Homo sapiens: one gene and its partners. The protein of the gene in region 1 purifies or fractionates together with the protein of each later gene. This does not show direct contact. Each region holds a gene or a part of one and is shown on either strand. Other genes may lie near its edges.

Region 1 (5,253 bases):
AAGGGAAAAATACTAGTTACCTGTGAAGTATATATGAATAATAGTGTTAACCAAGTTACAAGGCAGAAAAAAAAATCCTTTAAATGCAAAATACACTAAGCAATCTATCACAACATTTGGAAGAGAGTAAGAACTTACGTATTCTTCCTTACATCCTCTGTATTCCTCCTGTCATATTAAAGAGGGAGGTATCAATTTAGCAGGGTAACTGATACCTCATGATCACATACAGGAACAGTTGAGCAATTAAACAAAAAATCAAATTATTATTATTATTATTATTTTGAGATAGGGTCTCACTCTATCACTGAAGCTGGAGTTCAGTGGTGTGATCTTGGCTCATTGCAACCTTGACCTTCTGGGCTCAAGGCATCCTCCCACCTCAGCCACCCAAGTAGCTGAGACTACAGGCATGTGCCACCATGCCCGGCTAATTTTTTTTCATTTTCTGTACAGACGAAGTCTCACTATGTTGCCCAGGCTGGTCTTGAACTCCCTGGGCTCAAGTGATCCTCCTGCCTCGCCTTCCCAAAGTACTGGAATTACAGGCATGAGCCACTGCACCCAGCCTTCAAAAGTTAGTATTACATATTGGCTTACTTTTATTCAGTAGAATAAACATTCTGGAGTTTTTTGTGTTTTAAAATGTGATGCTACCTAATTTTATCATTGAAGTTAACATGAAATAAGAGATGTGACACAATATACCCCAAATATATTATATGGGTTTCCCTTTTCTCTGATACTTTTTAGCAATACTGGTTAAATGCAACATATTTTCTTGCAAATAGGTCCACAGATGCCAAAACTTTGAATCACATATTATGGATAAAATGTGATAATGCATTTTCAACTTTAAAAAAGAAAATATAGGCCAGTAGTGGTGGCTCAGGCCTGTAATCCCAGCACTTTGGGAGGCCGAGGCGGACGGGTCACGAGGTCAGGAGATCAAGACCATCCTGGCCAACAAGGCGAAACCCTGTCTCTACTAAAAAAAATACAAAAAATCAGCCAGATGTGGTAGCGAGCGCCTGCAGTCCCAGCCACTCGGGAGGCTGAGGCAGGAGAATGGCGTGAACCCGGAAGGCGGAGCTTGCAGTGAGCCCAGATCACGCCACTGCAGTCCAGCTTCGGCGACAGAGCGAGACTCCGTCTCAAAAAAAGAAAAAATAATACAAATATGTACCATTTATGAAGAAAATATATATCACCAGGAAGAGAATACATAGTCAACTTGTAAAATGTAAAAACTACCTTTATGTTAAAAGCCAGGTGCCGTGGTGCGTGCCTGTAATCTCAGCGCTTTGAAAGGCTGAGGCAGGAAAATCTCTTGAGGCCAGGGGTTTGAGAGTAGCTTGGGCAACATAGCAAGACCCCCAGTCTCCACAAAAAAATAAAATAGAAAACTAGCCAGGCGTTGTGGTGTGTGCCTGTAGTCCCAGGTACTAGGGAAGCTGAGGCAGGGGGATTGCTTGAGCCCTGGAGATCAAGGCTGCAGTGAGCTATCATGGTGCCCCTGCACTGCAGCCTGGGTGACAAAGTGATACTGTGTCCCTAAGGAAAAAAAAAAAAAGCTTTAAAGAAAAACAGTTCTTCATTTTCATGTCTACTACACAGAAATTGTTTTTCTGTGGCTTAATTTGAGCTATTTTCAGATACAGCAATGAAAAAGAAGAGTCTACATTGTTCTACATACTGATTGTCACTATGTTCAATTTACTAACCACTAGAAAGATCCTGGAAATTTAACCCTCTCCTCCATCTTTGTGAAGATATTTATAAAATCACCTGCTAGCTCTGTGCACCCATTTATACTTCATCAGATGTTTATTAAGTTTTTCTTAGAGATAATTTCCTACAGTGAAGGGCTGTTTTAAAATGAATGGGCTCACCTATTAGGTTTGAAATGCCCTAGCCTTGTGGTGGACTGGTTGTATCAGTGAAGTTATTTAAAGAATTTCTAGGCCACTGACTCAGCAGTCACTAGAGGATATAGTAGTTGTTTAATAAAGCCCATGTACGTCCATTACAGCTTGTAACAGGTTTGCACAGCATGCAGAAGAAAAATAAAACATTAATTAGCTTTAATTCCACAAGTAAAACAATGTGAAAAACAATAACCAACAGCCAAAAGAATGTTTCCTTATAAATCAAACAGGATGATTTATTTGGCTAGATTTCTAATAAAGAGGAATTCTCAGCTTTTATCTCATGGTTTCCCACCATTCACCAAAGACTGCTTTGTTAAAATGTTTTTGTTAACTAATATGAATAATAGTATGGCTGGTCTTTCATTTAAGGTTAAAAAAACGGAACACACAAAACACAAATGAGTGGGGAACTTTTCCGGAGAGAGAAAAGAAAGGTGAAAAAGACAGGCAGAATGACGAGGAAGCATCCTGTGAGTGATGCCATGCTGGAAATGAGGCTTTAGGACTGCCATGCTTGGCAAATTGCAGTTTTCATGATGACGCCTGTTTGCCAAATACCTCTTTCAAGGGAAGCATTTCCAGCCTAACATTTGTCAAACCTCTTTTGTTAACTTGTTGACAAGAGTTAACTTGTCAGCTTTTAAAATGGCTTGCAGTTGGTATCCACGTTCCTTGATGGAAATGTGCAAAGTGTGAGTTACCCCCTTTCACAAAGAATCTTGTCAAGGGTGCTGACTTCAACTTGACTGCCTCTCCTGGGGGAAAAAAATCTACCTTCTGGAAACTTAAGTGATGAGTATTCCATCATAATTCTGCTTCAAAGAAATAAAAGAGGTCGAAGAGACAACCACCATCAAATAAAGAGTTAACAGGTAATTGTATAACTCAGCGACAGTTTAAAAACACAGTGGAGCATGTAGGATGTAAGCTTCAACGACCCAACCAAGCTCATAATTTCATGTTAACCGGCAACTCAGTGACATCAGCCAACAAGTTCCCCTGTGGAAGGCACGAAAGATGAAGAGACAGCAGCTTCCACCTGAGACATGATGAAGGGGCCGTGATTAATGCCCAGAATGTTACTCCAAAGAGCAATCTCTGAAGAACTATACCTCACCATCCTACCAGCCACACCCCTCCTGCTTAATGGAACAAGTTCCCATCTTCATGAAGCTAAGTCATCTCCAAGTATTTTAATTCTGTTGACACACTGAATTCATTGTTTTCTTTCAAGTATCCATGTCTCCTCTTGGAGTCCATTAGAGCCTATAAATCAGATCATCCATCCTCTCTGCCCTAGACTCAGAAGAACTTGAGGACGTGCTCTGAGGAAGGTCACTGTGAACGCCGATCATAGACATGAATGAAAAGAAAACATTCCGGTAAGTTTTTTAGTTCTTTATTCCTCTCATTTAGGTAATGGGTTAACTGGTTAGAAAAAAGCGGTTGGGGTGGGGGAAGGAGGAGGAGGTTCATAGGCGTTTTAAGTGCCAAAACCAAAAGTATGTTTTCATGGTAGTTTAAAGATAGACAAATACACATCCGCAACACACAGACACTGATAAATATATAAGTAAGGATTCTTTTTAATAAAGGGGAAGTATGCGGCTTAAACAACAGAGACAAAGAAGTGAAAATTAGGAACTATAATAAGTTTTAGACTAGAAGATCAAAAACTAAGGCAATGAATGTGAAATTTGCTTTTTTAAAAAAACTATGAGTATCATGAATAAACTGCCTCCCCTGAAGGCTGCCACATGTAAAACGTTTTTAAAAAGTAGCCAAATACCTGCTAATTCGCATAATATTTTTCAGATAGGATACTAAAAATCCCCTAATTATGAAATGGCTGCTTCACACAAAGAGTTGAGTTGGGTTCTAATTGTATGAGGATATACTTAATATAATACAGATCTATTCATATAAAGGAGGCCCTTAATTTTGAAAATCAGTTTGTGTTAATCTGGTGAAACACAATAGCGGCATTTTTGTGCAGTTTTTTTTTTTTTTTTAATGATTAAGAGTTTGACTTATTGTCTTATCAGCTAACAGTCCATATTTTGGGCTAGTATGTTTGACAAAGGGGTGACGACAGCTGCTACAGGAGAATGACAGAAGGACAAAAAAACTGAAATACACAAAGTAACCAACCTTCTTCTCCTTCCCAAGGAGGACAGAAGAGAACTCACAGCAGGCCCCTGCCCTAGCATAGCTCATGTACCTTGTGACCTCCCAGCAGAGCATCATGTAGATGCCCCTAAAAGCAGCTGTTATGGAACCAGCTGGTCCCCGTGGAAAGGAGGCAATGGCTCTCCGGTGCTTACTGAAGCTGCTGCTTCTTTTTTTTTTTTTTTTTTTTTTTTTTGTTTGAAACACAGTTTCACTATGTCACCCAGGCTGGAGTGCAGTGGCGCCATCTATCTCAACTCACTGCAACCTCCACCTCTCAGGTTCAAGCGATTCTCCTGCCTCAGCCTCCCAAGTAGCTGGGATTACAGGCACCCACCACCACACTCGGCTAATTTTTGTATTTTGAGTAGAAATGGGGTTTCACCATGTTGGAAAGGCTGGTCTTGAACTCCTGGCCTCAAGTGATTCACCCTCCTCATGGTGAATCACCCCACAATTCACCCCAAAGTGCTGGGATCATAGGCGTGAGCCACCGCACCCAGCCTACTGAAACTTTTTAATGTTGACTTAACTGCATAAAAGGTAATCCAAGGCTCCATGAGGAAATGAAACAGAAAAAGTTAGCAGACACATTGCTTAGACTACGCCAACCCCCCAAAATAGGATGCTAATAACAGACATAAAAACAGATATACCAATTATGTTATAGATACCTCTCATTTATCCAGAATCCTAACCACATTCAAATCAGTTAAAATAGTCTGTAACAGTGCAGAATGGTGATTAATTGCCTAATAATTACTTTGAGGTAATACAAAATCCAGAAACTCACAATTTAATCTTTTAAAATTAAAAGCACTTTCATATGCAATGTATTCTCATCCTCTATAAATTATAAAGTGATCTATGGAAAACTAAAAATTGTTAACCAGAATAATAAACAGAGAATTTCCTCTAATTCCAGATGGCTAGGAGTTTGTTCATGCATTTTTCTGTATACTATCATATACAGAATGACTTTTTTCAAGATACCATACAAACCAAGCTCTAAATAGCTTCCTGTTTACTAAGAAAAAATTAGAGCCCCATCTAAAACTCACGATAGCAATGATTAACAATTTACAAAGAAGAAGATAAACAATCATCTGCTAATTTGTGACTATATTTTCACACATTTTCATAATTAACTAAT
Region 2 (4,804 bases), on another chromosome or scaffold:
AGGGAGGATGAGAGACCAAGGGTTCGCAGAAGGTGGGAACTTCTGGAGTACCCATGAGGTTTGTGGCCCTCAATTTAGAGTAAATGTGGGCATCTCCCTCCAGCCACACTGAGCTGCACAGGTACAGGCAGGAGAAGGTGGACAGGTGGGGTCAGTAGATGGGGTGGCCAGGGGGGTGGCAGAGTGTGAGGATTTCTCATGGCTCCCGAGAGGCTGCCAGGAGCTCGCTGAGCGTGGGGCCCTGTAAACTGGGAGCTGGACTATCCGCCCCGGGGTGACCTGGAGGGAGGGCAGCTACATCAGTGCAGGCTGCAGCACCGGGACCCTTCTGCGCCCTCAGCAAGTGGGTAGCACACAGGAGAGGTGGCAGGTGTGCCAGGAAGGGCTGTGGCCCAGTCCTCTCTGGCCCAACACGGCCACCTCACCTGCCGGCATTCTTCACAAAGCCCAGGTCAGCCAGCTCCACATCACACAGCTCGCAGCGGAAGCAGCCCGGGTGCCAGTTGTTGTTCATGGCCTTGATGACGCGGCCAATGATGAACTCACCTGGAAGAAGACAGGTCCCTGCTGGCTGGGGAGCACGTGCCTGTCCCCTCTTCGGACCCTCCCAAGCCCTGTCCACCTAGCACTCCGCCTGCTCTCTGCCTGGCCCATGGGCTCCCTCGTGGGATGGTGATGCCTGTAGGGGGCCTGACGGCTGCCGCTCAGAGAGGCAAGGTGGGGAGTTAGGAAAGAGCTGGGCCAGTTCTGTGTACCCCCTCGGCCCCCTGCCCCCCGCCACTGCTGCCCACTTCCCAGGCAGCCCAGGATGTGTACTGTCACCGGCCTTACCGCAGGATCCACAGCACGGAGCAAACAGCATTTGGAAGTCGTGTTCGCAGTACTTCCGGCCTTCAAACTGCAAAGGGGTCGCAGAGAGAGGACAAGCAAACCACCTATCATCCCCATGAGCAGCCCAGGCCCTTGTTGGGTCAGGACCTGACAGCAGGGGATGAGGCACTGAGGCAGGGGCATGCCGGGCTGAGGCTGGAGCAGTGGGTCCCAGGCCTGGCCAGAGAGGACACTGGCCCTTTTGGGATGGTGGGGTGCAAAGGGAGGTGCCCCCGTGGAAGCTGGAGAGGTCCGTGAGGCCACCTGTCAAAGGGCCACTGGTGTCTACTGAGGATCTGGACCCTGTTGGTCCGGAGAACAGGCTGGGGGCGAGGCGGTTTTAAGCCAGGAGGGATGAGATCCAGTCTGAAGTGTAGTGTCACTTGGTCCTATTTCGTATACCTTCTCTGTGGGAGTATCCAGCTCTCTCAGAGGCCATGAAGACCCGGGTATAGGAGACAGAAGGAAGGGAACGCAGGAAGGGCCTGGGCACGGGGAAGTGGGAAGAGCTCAGGGCTGCGGCCAGCAGGAGCCAGTGTGCACACCCTCCAGGCGGCAGCTGCCAGCGAGGGCCCCTGTGCTGGCCACAAGCGGGGCCAAAGCCTGCCTCTGCTTTCCTCTAACAATTGTATTTTCTGTTTTTTAATTGGTTTTTCCCTGTTCTCTAAAATGAGTGTCTTATTAGACTAAACTGGATATAGCCCTACCCAGTGACCTGTAGAGTCAGGAAGGGCTTAAACTCTTTCAGCAATGAAAATCTTCTGGGCACCTGCTGTGTGTGAGAGAGAGAGGCTTTGTTCTGGGCATATGGCCACCCCTCCTAGAGCTTTGCCCACCCCTCCCGCTGCCTCTACACTTAGACAGCATTCCTCAGGAGGCTGAAGACACTGTGAGGAACAGCGGCTCTTGCTCTGCCAGGCGGACCACAGGCCCCACATCCATCCACCAGCCAGTCCCATCAGCTCTACCTTGAAACAGAGCCAGCATCTGACCCCTGGCCACCACCGCCACCACAAGCACAAGTGATGTTCTGGTAAATGCTCAACAGCCAGCTCTCTGGGGCGCAGAGGCAGGCCCTGCTGTGGGGCGTTTGCCAGTGTCCATGGTGTGAATATTCCCGTCATGGCCAACTCCTGGCTGCCAACATGACATCGATGTGGACTTGAGGGGAGATGTGCAGTGGCCACACCAGCACAATGGACAGAAATAACCCCATCAGCATAGACGATAGTAAAGTGGAACAAAATAATTAGCAAGTGGTATGCTTTGAGTATTTGTTACCTTTGTTTTTAATAAAATTGTATCCCATTGTACGCTGATATAATTTAATTTTTAAACAATAACTCTGTTGCCCAACCAGCTCCCAAGATTGTTGATGATTTAACGACTGCTCCTGTGAGCTGGTGGGGGCCCCTTCACTTTCATCTGGGTGATTGCACTAATTCAGCTCCTGGTCCCCCCAGCCTCCTGGCCCAGCCTCTGTTCCTGCCCCGCCTTACATCCTCTCCTCAGCACAGCGGCCACAAGCCTCCTTTTTTTTTTCTTTCTTTTTTTTTTTTTTTTTAGATGGAGTCTTGCTCTGTCCCACAGGCTGGAGTGCAATGGCGCGATCTCGGCTCACTGCAACCTCTGCCTCCCAGGTTCAAGTGATTCTCCTGCCTCAGCCTCCCGAGTAGCTGGGATTACAGGCACCTGCCACCATGCCAGGCTCATTTTTTGTATTTTTAGTACAGACAGGGTTTCACCATGTTGGCCAGGCTGGTCTTGAACTCCTGACCTCAGGTGATCCATCTGCCTCCGCCTCCCAAAGTGCTGGGATTACAGGCGTGAGCCGCCGCGCCCGGCCAGGTCACCTTTTCAAATGTCAGCAGATAGTGTGACTCCTCTGCTCCACACCCCGAGGTGGCTCCTGCCTCTTGCAGAGGGGAAGCCTATGGCTCCGTAGAGGCCCGTGGGGCCAAGCGAGATCCACCTCCCTTTCCTCAGCTCCTGGCCTTCTCCCTCTCATGCCCTCGGCTTCCATCACACCAGTCTTCCTACTGCTCTCCATACACCCCATGTTCTCCCACCACAGGGTATGTGCATATGCGGTGCCCTCTGCCCAGTATGTCTCCCTCCCCTCAGGTGTGCCCAAACCTCACCTTCCCTGAGCACCACCGCACCCCACCCCGGGAACCCTGACCCCCAGGGCATCAGCACCAGCTGGTGGGCCATGCGGTTGCTGTGCTCACTGTCTAGTCCCCAGGGAGGGCAAGCACCACCAGGGCAGGCTCTTCCTGCCCCCAGGGCCTGCCCAGCATCTGCCCAGAGGAGGCTGGTGAAAGGTGGCTCTCTGTTAGCACCCAGGGCACCTGGGGTGCTGTTCACATCTCACAGGTGAAGGATGGGCCCGTGCAGGAGCTCAAGCCTGGTTCTGGGCTGGCTCCAGACCTGGCCCTGTCACCAGTCGGGACCACTGCATGGAGCCCGGCCCACCCGCTCATAGAGGGCAGACTCCGAGCTGGGTCTGAGAAAGCCCTCAGTAGTGTCCTCACCTCATAGAAGAGCCCCTCGGGGAAGGGCCGGAAGCACTGGGCACACACGAAGCAGTGCTCATGGTACAGCTCCCCATTGCTGTTGACAATGCGCTCGGCGGGGGAGAAGCGGGCCTGGCAGCGCTGGCACACGGCGTTGGCCAAGGCGTCCGACATATTGCTGGGGGCAGGAGACAGGAGGAGTGAGTCAGAGCTGGTCAGGGGTGCAGATGGGGCACACGCGGGGGCCTGCGCCCGACAGACACACCTCGTATTAAAAAGTGAAGACGCTCTGCAGGATCAGGAAAATCGCTCTAACCCAGGGTCCAGGCTGCTCAGTGCTTGTAGTGCCCACCCCTTGGGGTGTCAGGGGCCCAGTCAACTCCCACTTGGGCCCCTATTACCCCTTCTTCAGGGACCAGAGAGTCTCGCACACAGAACACCACCCAGCACAGGTGAGCGGCTCTGTATTCACACTCTCATTTAATCCCCAGGGCAATACTGCAGCTACTATTATTATGGCCTCTTCCAGAAAAGGGACCTAAGCCTCAAAGAGGTTGAGTAACTTGCCCAAGCTCACACAGCAGAGCGGGGTCCACACTTGAATCCAGACTGCTCAGTCTTCCATGGTTCCATCCTCTGCACCATGAGTTAGTTTCAAACTGACTGCCTCCAATAAACACATAACCACCCAAACACAGAGCAGGCAAGAGGGTAGCTGGGTGCGTGTGCAGAATGGCTCAAGCCTGTCATCCAGAGCACTGTGGGAGGCCAAGGTGGGCGGATCCCTTGAGCCCAGGAGTTCGAGACCAGCCTGGGCAATATGGCAAGAATCCATCTCTAATAAAAATACAAGAAAACAAAAAAATTAGCCAGGTGTGGTGGTGCAAGCCTGTAGTCTCAGCTACTCTGGAGGCTGAAGTGGGAGGATGGCTTGAGCCTGGGAGGCCGAGGCTGAGTGCCACTGCACTCAGGCCTGGGCAACAGAGCAAGACCCTGTCTCAAAATAAAAAATAAATAAAAAAGACAAGAGTATGAATCTTTGAGACGAGACGGGAGTGTGGTGAGGGGGAGCAAATCTCATCCATACTGGGCACTGCCTGTCCCCAGAGTCAGTGGTGGGTTTCCTTCTGGGAGGGGTGAAATGCGAACTACAGGGGAAAAGCCCACAGTGAGCCAGGCCCGCAATCAGTCCAGCCCCAGGGCCCTTCGGCACAGCCAGGAGGGGCCTTTTAGACTCAAAAACAGGGTCAGGATGTAGTCCTAAACACCCCAACTGCCTCTACGACCTTCAAAGAACCGGATACCCCACACCTTTTGCTAGGAAGGGAGAACGTGGGTTCTGTCTCAAGTGTCAACTCCAGTGGATTCCTGGAAGACTGGGCAGAGAGGGAGCATCAGGCTCGCTGGGGAGTGACGCA
Region 3 (5,059 bases), about 14 Mb from region 1:
TGGACCACTTCTTGTACGGCCTCTCGGATGAGATGAAGCAGGCCCACAGAGAGCAGCTCTTTGCTGTCAGCCACGACAAGCTCCTGGCCGTGAGCGATAGGTGAGTGGGGAGCGGGGGAGACAGCGTCTGGGACTGGAAGCCCTCGTGCTGACTCTAACAGCGCTCACGCAGAAGCCAGTCCTTGCTGACCACGCCTGCCTTCCTCTCAGATACCTCGGCACTGGGAAGAGCACACACGGCCTGGCCATCCTCGGACCCGAGAACCCGAAAATTGCCAAGGACCCATCCTGGATCATCCAATGAGCAGCCGTGGCGCTCGACTGCACAGGAGCCCGAGACAATACACCTCCGAGCTGAATATGAAAAGTCAGAAATGCTACTGCTTTTTCCAAGAATATTATGTCATTGAGTGTCGCCAAAGCCCTTGACTGGCGAGTCAAAAACTCAGATCTATCTTAAGAGTGACCAGGAAGAGGTTCATTGAAATAATCATGCATGAAGCGCCAAAGATGCACCATGTAGAATTTTCACTTTGTACTGGCAGGCTCGTTTTACCTCATTCTAGAATATTTAAGAATCTAAAAATAAAGGGCAACTCTGACTTAACCTCTGCTTGAGTCATTATTTTAAGCAGCATTTAGGGCCTTTATTTAAAAACAGAAGTAAAATGAAAAGGTGCACAAGGGTGTCCCACGTCTGCCTGCGCTGATTCAGGAAACTCCATCACACCGAGGCCCTGGGGGAGTGTCCACCAGACGGGAGTTCACCGCGGCGGCTGCATGGAAACCGTCCTGAGAAGCAAGTGGGTTGGGGTGAGTAAGCGCTTGCTTCATCGTTACAGAGCCAGAAAGGAAAGCCTCCGCGCTAGCTCTTTCTTGGCTGTCGGACTCTGATTTCCCAAACAGAGTTTGTTTTTGGCCTCTCCTCTCCCTCCACCCAGCTCTCTGCCCCCATTTCTGAGGCGCAGCTGTTCTCTCTTGCAGACTAGAGCTAAGAGGCAGAAACGCTGTCCCTACAGGAGGGGGGCCCACCAGGGCAGCAGGGCTGTCATCCCAGCAGCCGTGTCTACTCTGGCAGGAGTCTTCCGGAGAGTTCCAACCTAGGTCCCAGCGAGGACTGTGGCTTGGCCTGGAGGAGAAGCTGGCTATCAGATTTTTGAACCCACCTCCGCCCCACCCACCCCTTGGTGGTTTTAACATGCAGCTAGGATTGCAATCAAGAGGACAAGTAACTAAGATTCATGTTTTACTTTCAAAGGAGAGCAGGAGCCTGGGGTCGAGGCCCAGGGTCCCGGCCTGCTGCTGTGGATGGAAACTGACACATGGCAGATATGGAATGGTGAGTAAACGTGGCCTTCCCCTTGGCCTGTGTGAACTCCTGGCTTTGTTCTCCTTGTATGACGTGTGCATAGTTCAGTGATCCCTATAAAAATATTTTGCTAATCTTTGCCCACAAAACTGAGAAAACCTTTAGTAGCCACCCATAGATTGAGGTACTAATCTCCTACTTAAAAAACTAAAACAGAGGACTGTTGGAGTCATAGGCAAATGTTTAATTAATTCTGCTCATATGCACATCTGAAAGCATGAGACACACTCCACAGACAGCACGCACTGGAGCAGGTGGGGCAGATGGGCACTCGCCGATTAGGTATTAATGTCAATAATACGTGCATAAAGTGCTGATAAAATAACTTAAGTGTTACAAAAACAGACAGTCCACGGTGGCTGCAGGCACATGCAGGCGGGACTGGGTCAGACACTCCAGGGCTGCACATGTTCCAGCTGGCCTGAGTCCGACACGTCATAGCTGGCCTTGTACTTGGCCAGGATTTTCATGAGGGGCCGTAGCTTGAGCCACCACTGTTCTTTGGGAATCCTGTGCCTGTGGAGGTAAGAGGAGACAGCAGTGAGGCCTGCAGTCACTGGCGGGAGATGCCTCCGCCTGGCCAGCACAGCGAGCGGTCTTGCCAGAAACACAGGGTTTGTAGGGTCGGCTGAATCAACTAGATGATAAAGCCAATTTCAGGATCAAATGAAACCATTGTTTAAAATTATTCCCGAAGACCCAGTGGTGGAGTCTCGCTCTGTCGCCAGGCTTGAGTACAGTGGTGCAATCTCAGCTCACTGCAACCTCTGCCTCCCGGGTTCAAGCGATTTCTCCTGCCTCAGCCTCCTGAGTAGCTGGGACTACAGGTGTGCATCACCATGCCTGGCTCATTTTTGTATTTTTAGTAGAGATGGGGTTTCACCATATGAGCCAGGTTGGTCTCGATCTCTTGACCTTGTGATCCACCTGTCTCGGCCTCCCACAGTGCTGGGATTATAGGCATGAGCCACCGCGCCCAGCCAAGACCTAGTATTTTTTTAACTGAGCTTCAGAAAAGCCAGTTCCTCAAACCCCTGAATGAGTTGCCGACAGCAACAGCAATGGCCATTCCCCTGTCCCGTACTCACATTGGGGTCTTATTGCCTCAGGGAACCCAGCCAACTTACTCAAAATCCGTTTGCTTCTTCAGCTCTGCCACAGGTTGAAAAATAACGTTTCTTTTGCTTATTCCCAGCACACAAATGGAATCATCGGTGGTAAATTTTTTTCCTATAAAAGATTTTAAAAAAGATTAATAACACCCTGTCAACATGGGCAGGTGGGGGAGCAGAATCACGGGGCGAGATGAGAACTGAGATTCCTCAGAACCATGCTGAACCCGGCCTGGAAGCCCAGTGAGACTGAGAACAGCCGCGCAGTGGGGCCAGCACCTGGCCTCGTGCAGCTCTGCTCCTGTGGGACTGCCCCGAGGGCTTCCTGGAAAGCAGCTTTTGTTTTTTCCTCCCAGTGGAGAGAATTTTTCACTAAATAGTGGAATAGGGAAATTAGCTTAAATTACAGGACACTAATTTATGCTCACACATACACACACTGAGAGGCAAAAAGCATCCATAGCTAAATTAGCAAAAGAAAATCGCTGTAGAAAGAATCAAAGCCAAAGTCAGTTCTTCAAAAAGACAAACCCATTGAAACTATTCACATCACTGGTTTTTATAGACTGTCATTTTTCTAAGTTGGACACTGGCAGTGATAGTGGTTTGCCGGAATAAAAGCACACATCTGCTATGACTGATTAAGAAAGCTGAGGGGGGTGGGGGTGAGAAAGATGCTGGCACAAAGAGCCACTCAGGAATGAGTGGGGAACAGCCATGTTGGAGCCATTAACAAGAGTATTATAAAAAAGTCATGTTTCTTGAAACTTCAGTTTAAAGATTTCTTAGAATATGTAACTTACAGAACTGATTTAAGGAAGAACATGCACAGTTCTACGAACATGCAGTTCTACAAACATGAACAATTCATTCAGCAGTCAGATCTTCCTCAAAACTGGAAGTTTTGATGGATAGTCACAAGGAGGTTGTCCTAGCAAACATTCAAAAAATAGAAGGCCCCACTTAAACTGTGAGGGGAAATTGCTGGCCAACGTTCAGGATCTCTAGAGCAAAAAGCCTGCACAAAAGAACTGCAGACTGCATCTAGCAGTGATAAAAGAGAACATGTCATACCCAAGCTGATCTTATCCCAGGAATCCAAGGTTGGTTAAATAGCAACACTCAGAGATCAGGAGTAAAACATCACGTGCAGCTCAGTACTGAACTGAAGAAGGAACCAGCACCCTACTTCTCCCCGATAGGACAGCATTTTCACCAAGGCAGGACGGCCTGCATCACGAGGCTGTGGCCTCCCTCCCCAGACCCCTTACCTCTGCCCCGGGCCTCCTTGAGTTTTGCAGTGATCCACTCCATAGCTCTGGCAGAGATTTTGGTTCCAAAGTTTCTATCAAATGGAGAGGGTGCCCCACCCTGTTGGTGGTTAGAGTTATATGAAATACCAGTTATACAGTAACACTTTGCTGTTAAATAGAAATGACAATTTCTATTTTGCAGAATTCATGTTTTTATTTCTAGGTCCTTATAGTTGGAACAGAACAAAACCTGTGATTCCCGTAGCCTGAACTTGGCCTGTTAAGAAAAAGTATCAAGTGTTCCCCCCGCTCAGTAAGATGAGGATTTTAATAAACCGAACAAGTCAACTAACAATCTTCATTATTTTAAAATCTTAAATCAGGATTTCATGAACTCATCTGAGCTGGGGATGGGTCACAGCTTTAATCTGATAACCGTTGTGGATTCTTTAAGAAGATCACACATATGCCTACTATTTCATCATCATTGCAGGGGATTCATGGGCTCTGGCTTAAAAGTATAAGAATAGGAGGTGGTGAGGAAGGAGTGTGTGCAAGTTAGGAGGCCTGGACCCTGTGTCCCAGGCTCAGCTCATAACACGTGTGTGCCTGTGTGCAGCTCATTCCAGGTCATTCTGACTTGGGGTGTCAAGTATACTACATGTCTGATAATCCATTTTAAATCTTAGGGAAGCTCCAGTTTTTAACTTGATGAAGTGTTTAATTTGAATAAGCATTTCCAAGTAATGGGGGTATCACTGTTTTCATGAAAGCTGACAGTTCCCTTAAAATCCCCATTACTCAAACCTCACCAACAAAAGAATCCTAAAGCTGGTGATGTTTGGCATCACTTAAAAGTTCAGATGTTTTGGCTGGGCACAGTGGCTCAGGCCTGTATTCCCACCACTTTGGGAGGCTGAGGTGGGTGAATCATCTGAGGTCAGGAGTTTGAGACCAGCCTGGCCAACGTGGTGAAACCCCATCTCTACTAAAAATACAAAAATTAGCTGGGTGTGGTGGTGGGTGCCTATACTGCCATCTCCTCGGGAGGCTGATGCAGGAGAATCACTTGAACCTGGAAGGTGGAGGTTGCAGTGAGCCAAGCTTGTACCACTGCACTCCAGCCTGGGCAACAGAGCAAGACTCTGTCTCAAAAAGTTCAGATGTTTTTTATCATCTTGGAATTTACTTATACATTTTTCCCCACAATGGCTAAAATAAGACACTAATCTTTTAAAAGTCACATGACAGGGGCTTTGTGGCCCCTCATGCAGTCTCGGGCCTACCTGCTGCATGTGACCCAGCACGTTCTTCCTGCAGTCAAA
Region 4 (4,804 bases), about 100 Mb from region 1:
GTTAAAATGGAATTAGTCGTAAGAGATGGCAGGAGTTTATGGAAAGGGCTAGAAACTGTGCTAAAGAGTTTGTTTTATCCTGAAACGGAGAACTGTTAAAAACCTTTAAAGTGCATTGGCCTTTTGATTGTCTTTCCCAAGTAATGACAATCATCATTTTGTTCTGGTGTATTATATTTTTCCTTCCTGCCTTTAATTATTTATTTGTGCTTTCATCGATCAAAAATTTCCTTTGCACTAGGCACTATACAAGGTACTGGAGATATAATGGAGAGACAGCCAAATGAGTTTCCCAAGCAAATAGGGATGTAAGCCATGAAGAGAATAAAACAGAGTTCTGTGATGATTGGAGGGTTGGTGCTATATAGGCTAGGTGATGAGAGATGTCACCTCTTTGAGCTGAGATGAATAACAAGATGGTGCTATCTATGGTAAGAGCTGGAGGCAGAGGAAACAGCAAATACAAGTCTTGAGTTGGTAATGAACTTGTGTTTGTGGAATCAAAGACCGATGGCTAGAGTCTGGTGAGGGATGGAGGGGAGTTAAGGGAAATGAGTCTAACAGCAGGATTCAGAATCACAGGACATTATGGTCCATGACATAGTTTAGGTTTTACTCTGATTGCTGTGGCAGACCAGTGGAGGGGCTTAAGCAGGGGGATGAGGTGCCAAGATTTGCATATTTAAGCTTACTACTCTATGTAGAGAATGACTGTTTTATGGAGAATAGATTGTAGCGGGCAAGAGCAGAAGGAGAAAAACCATCTGGATTTACTTCACTAGTCTAGGTAAGAGATGATGGAGGCTTATTCTCGAAAGTGCTAGCCGAAGTCAAGATAAGGACAGAGGTTGATAGATTTGGAATATATTTTGGAGGTAGAATTGATAGGACTGGGTTGGCTGTGGGACATAGGGAAAGGAAGAAATCAGGAAATACCCTAAGATTCATGTTAATGCAGTTGTATAGTTGGTAATGCTATTTATTTGCTAAAGTGGGGGTGACCTGATGGATGTCACCATGGGGAGTGGTGGGAATCAGAAATTGTGTTTTGGATGTTAGATTTAAGACATGAATTAGACATCAAAGTGGACGTTAGATTAGGCAGTTGGATAAAGTAGTTTGCAACTCTAGAGAGACCGGTGCTGAAGCTTGCAGTGGTATTTGAATCCATGAAGCCATGGGACTAGATGAGTTCACAGAGAGAGAATGATGGTAAAGAAGAGCACAGAGGCCGTGAGGTCTGAGCCCTGGACAAGCTCAACATTTAGAGTTTGAGTAAGGGAAGAAAGATCCTACAGTGAGGAAACAGGAAAACCAGAGTGTGGTAGGAGACAGAAGAGAATGTTTAAAGGAGGATGGTGGTCAACTGTAGTGAATTCTGCTTGGAAGTAAAGATTAGGATGGAAAAGGAATCACAGAAGCAGCAGAGAGGTCATTGTTGAGCTCAACATGCAGTTTCAGTGGCATGGTTAGCTTGGAAGCTGACAGAAGTAGGTTTAGGAGAGAACGGGTTGTGAGAAAGTGGGGAAAGACTCACTAGAAAATTTTTGAGAAACATTTGTAAAGATTTATTTTAACTATTTTTTAAAACCCCATGTATACATACAGCTATTTGAAGGGTAGAGGGACTCGAAATGAATTTTCATAACATCCATATTCTAGAACTCCTAGATTTGAGCTTGTAAAGTCTCATATTTCTCTGTCTTGACATTTATGTCATCCAACAAAAATTGGTGACAACGCTAAATAAGGTAGGGACATAACGGATTTTTTTTTTTTTTTTTTAAGAGACAGGGTCTGACTCTGTCCTCCAGGCTGGAGTGCAGTGGCGCCATCATGGCTCACTGCAGCCTCCACCTCCTGGGTTCAAGTGATCCTCCCACCTCAGTCTCCCAAGTAGCTGGGACAGCACCGCCACACCTAGTTCATTTTTAAATGTGTTTGTAGAGATTGGTTTCACCATGTTACCAATGGTCCCGAACTTCTGGCTGGTCCTAAACTCCTAGGCTCAAGTGATCCTCCTGCCTCTGCCTCATCCTCCTAAAGTGCTGAGATTATAGGCATGAGACACTGCACCCAGCCATAATTGATTTTTTTTTTTTTTTTTTTTTTTTGAGATGGAATCTTGCTCTTTTGCCCAGGCTGGAGTGCAATGGCATGATCTCGGCTCACTGCAGCCTTGGCCTCCTGGGTTCAAGTGATTCTCCTGCCTCAGCCTCCCAAGTAGCTGGGACTACAGGTGCGTGCCATCATGCCCAGCTAATATTTTTTATTTTTTTATTTTTTGTATTTTTAATAGAGACAAGGTTTCACCATATTAGCCAGGATGGTCTTGATCTTCTGACCTCGTGAACCGCCCACCTCGCCCTCCCAAAGTGCTTGGGTTACAGGCGTGAGCACTTTTTTTTGAGACAGAGTCTGGCTCTGTTGCCCGGGCTGGAGTGCAGTGGCACGATCTTGGCTCACTGCAACCTCTGCCTCCCAGGTTCAAACGATTCTCCTGCCTCAGCCTCCTGAGTAGCTGGGATTACAGGCGCCCGCCACCACACCCAGCTAATTTTTTGTATTTTTGGTAGAGATGGGGGTCTCACCATGTTGGTCAGGCTGGTCTCGAACTCCTGACCTCAAGTGATCCAGCTGCCTCAGCCTTCCAAAGTGCTGGGATTACAGGTGTGAGCCACTGCACCCAGCCCATAATTGATTTTTAGGATGTCACTTGGTGGTGTAAATAAGAAGCTTCCAGAGGGTATAAACTCTAGCAGAGTATCTAGCAGCTATTTATTTTTCTTTCATAAATTTCATTTCAGTATGTGAAAAATCCTTTTTCCCCCATAGTTTTATGATTTTTTTTTTACTTTAGATGTTGTTATCATAGATTCTAGCTTTCCTTATATAATACAAATATATATTATTGATTCTAAGTCAAATTTTTTTAGAATTTTAATATCTGACAGTTGGGATGTGACTTAGAAATAAGTGGTGTCTTAAATTAGATGATATGCAGTGTGATGTGAATATATAAAATATGTGATGTCAGTGAATATATGTGTATATATACATGCACGTGCATACATTGATTGGGAGCTGGCCTACTATTAGATAGATTTGAAATTGGTATTCACGAGTAGACTAGTTTCCTAAAGTGTATGGGATTATCATAGATCTGCTGTTGGACCCCTGTATGTTTTGCTGTGATTATCAGTGTTTTCCTTAGAGACCATTGGGGCAAAAGAGATAGGAGTGAAAGGAAAACTCAACTAGCACAATTTTAGCCTCTTATTTATTTTGATGTCCTTTCTTCAATGAATATTTATGGTAAATGTAATAACTCTTTTACAAGAATTTAAATGTGTGTTTTCATTTGAAGTCTTCCCCCATTTCCTTTCTTTACCTCTTAAGAACAGCATTCACGTGGCTACAACAGTAGGATTTTGTATGAGAGCCCATAGTTTTGTTGTCAGTATTAACGATCCCACTTTTTTTCCCTCAAGGAAATGCCTTCTGGTTCCTTTGCCACTATTGTTTAGACGTCTTATTTTGGATTTTTCTTCTAAAACTTTCCTGGAATGAAAAACTGTTGTGGTTGAAAAGATCTTTATTTTATCTGGTATATTTATCCCTTGTAAGTCCAACTAGAATTCCACATTTTAAATATTATTCTTATAGGGCATTTTACATTGAATAATGATGAATGTTTTTAGCCTTACATAAAAATATGTATTTGTACAGTTGTGCAGCTATTCAGTACAGGTTGCAGTTTCATAGAAATTCATTTCTAGTTTGGTTGTCAGGTGAGAATGTTGCTATAGCTTAGGTAGTACTACTTTCTTCACATCTTTATAAATGTGTTTTAGGTAACTACTGTCAAGCACAGGGTTGCAGAATATATTTAATATAGATTTTTTATATGGTGTTCTTATGATGTAAACTTATAGCTTTGTCTTGGAATATTTTATTCAGATACATTTTCAGAACCTCTTTTCTTGATCACCACTGTTATTTCTCTGATCTTTGGAAGACCAAATTCAAAGTATATAGAATCTTCAGTACATTAGACTATTTTGGAAGGTAGGGAATTCATTTCAGTAGCTGGTTATAAAGCTTAAGTTTTCTTGTTTTTATTTTCATTCTTTCCATATCCAGAAAAGAAATCAATAAAATTCAGTCTTTGTAGCAGCATAGAATTCCATCATTTGTAGTATTGATCCTAATTTTGATCAGTAGTTTATGAAGTTGGTTCTTGCTGTATTTCTGTATCCTGGGATACCACTTATAGAGGATTATGATGCATAAGTAGAACGTAATTTAAAAATAATATTGGAGAAGGAAAGTAGTGGTAAGGAGTGGTCCTCATCAGATCTGAGTTTGAGGTTTTGTTTGGTTTAATATAATCTTCTATTTTATATTTAACACACTTCACCAGAATTCTTTATTTTCATTTAATACTGATGCTCATGATTCTACAACTGCTTTTATAGTTCCGTTTGAGTTCAGCAGTATTCTGAGGTGCAAAGTCAGGTTTAGCTTTAAATCTTATTTAAAAAGTGTTAGGCTTTCATAAGCTTATGCAGTCTCACCTTGTATATTCCCAGCTATCAGTAATGTTTTTTCCTGGATTTTCTTCTCAGCAACCCGATAGCAGAAGGGTCAACTCTTCTGTTGGATTTTCTGTTTTGCAGCATACAAGCAATGACCCATATTGCTTTGTGGAATTTTATGAACACAGAGATGCAGCTGCTGCATTAGCTGCTATGAATGGGAGAAAAATTTTGGGAAAGGTAAGATAATAGGATGATGGCACCTT

The links.
Region 2: the proteins of RSU1 (region 1) and LIMS2 purify together in Homo sapiens (affinity purification with mass spectrometry; one large-scale study listed by BioGRID and IntAct). This does not show direct contact.
Region 3: the proteins of RSU1 (region 1) and PFKP fractionate together in Homo sapiens (co-fractionation; one large-scale study listed by BioGRID). This does not show direct contact.
Region 4: the proteins of RSU1 (region 1) and TIAL1 fractionate together in Homo sapiens (co-fractionation; one large-scale study listed by BioGRID). This does not show direct contact.

What each region holds. Positions count from the first base shown.
Region 1 is NC_000010.11:16,687,453-16,692,705, forward strand, and holds part of RSU1 (ras suppressor protein 1), read right to left. Parts: intron 318-5,253; exon of another isoform or gene 139-317; intron 1-138. UniProt on the Homo sapiens protein: Potentially plays a role in the Ras signal transduction pathway. Capable of suppressing v-Ras transformation in vitro.
Region 2 is NC_000002.12:127,653,999-127,658,802, forward strand, and holds part of LIMS2 (LIM and senescent cell antigen-like-containing domain protein 2), read right to left. Parts: intron 4,219-4,804; exon of another isoform or gene 4,032-4,218; coding exon of another isoform or gene 3,964-4,031; intron 3,565-3,963; coding exon 3,405-3,564; intron 899-3,404; coding exon 832-898; intron 547-831; coding exon 426-546; intron 1-425. UniProt on the Homo sapiens protein: Adapter protein in a cytoplasmic complex linking beta-integrins to the actin cytoskeleton, bridges the complex to cell surface receptor tyrosine kinases and growth factor receptors. Plays a role in modulating cell spreading and migration.
Region 3 is NC_000010.11:3,133,276-3,138,334, reverse strand, and holds the end of PFKP (ATP-dependent 6-phosphofructokinase, platelet type), read right to left. Parts: coding exon 5,021-5,059; intron 4,232-5,020; exon of another isoform or gene 4,037-4,231; intron 3,853-4,036; coding exon 3,753-3,852; intron 2,600-3,752; coding exon 2,497-2,599; intron 1,886-2,496; coding exon 1,756-1,885; 3' UTR 1,533-1,755; downstream 1-1,532. Other genes in the region: PITRM1 (presequence protease, mitochondrial isoform 1 precursor), read left to right, coding at 1-100, 211-304. UniProt on the Homo sapiens protein: Catalyzes the phosphorylation of D-fructose 6-phosphate to fructose 1,6-bisphosphate by ATP, the first committing step of glycolysis.
Region 4 is NC_000010.11:119,582,433-119,587,236, reverse strand, and holds part of TIAL1 (nucleolysin TIAR), read left to right. Parts: intron 1-4,628; coding exon of another isoform or gene 4,629-4,679; coding exon 4,680-4,778; intron 4,779-4,804. UniProt on the Homo sapiens protein: RNA-binding protein involved in alternative pre-RNA splicing and in cytoplasmic stress granules formation. Shows a preference for uridine-rich RNAs.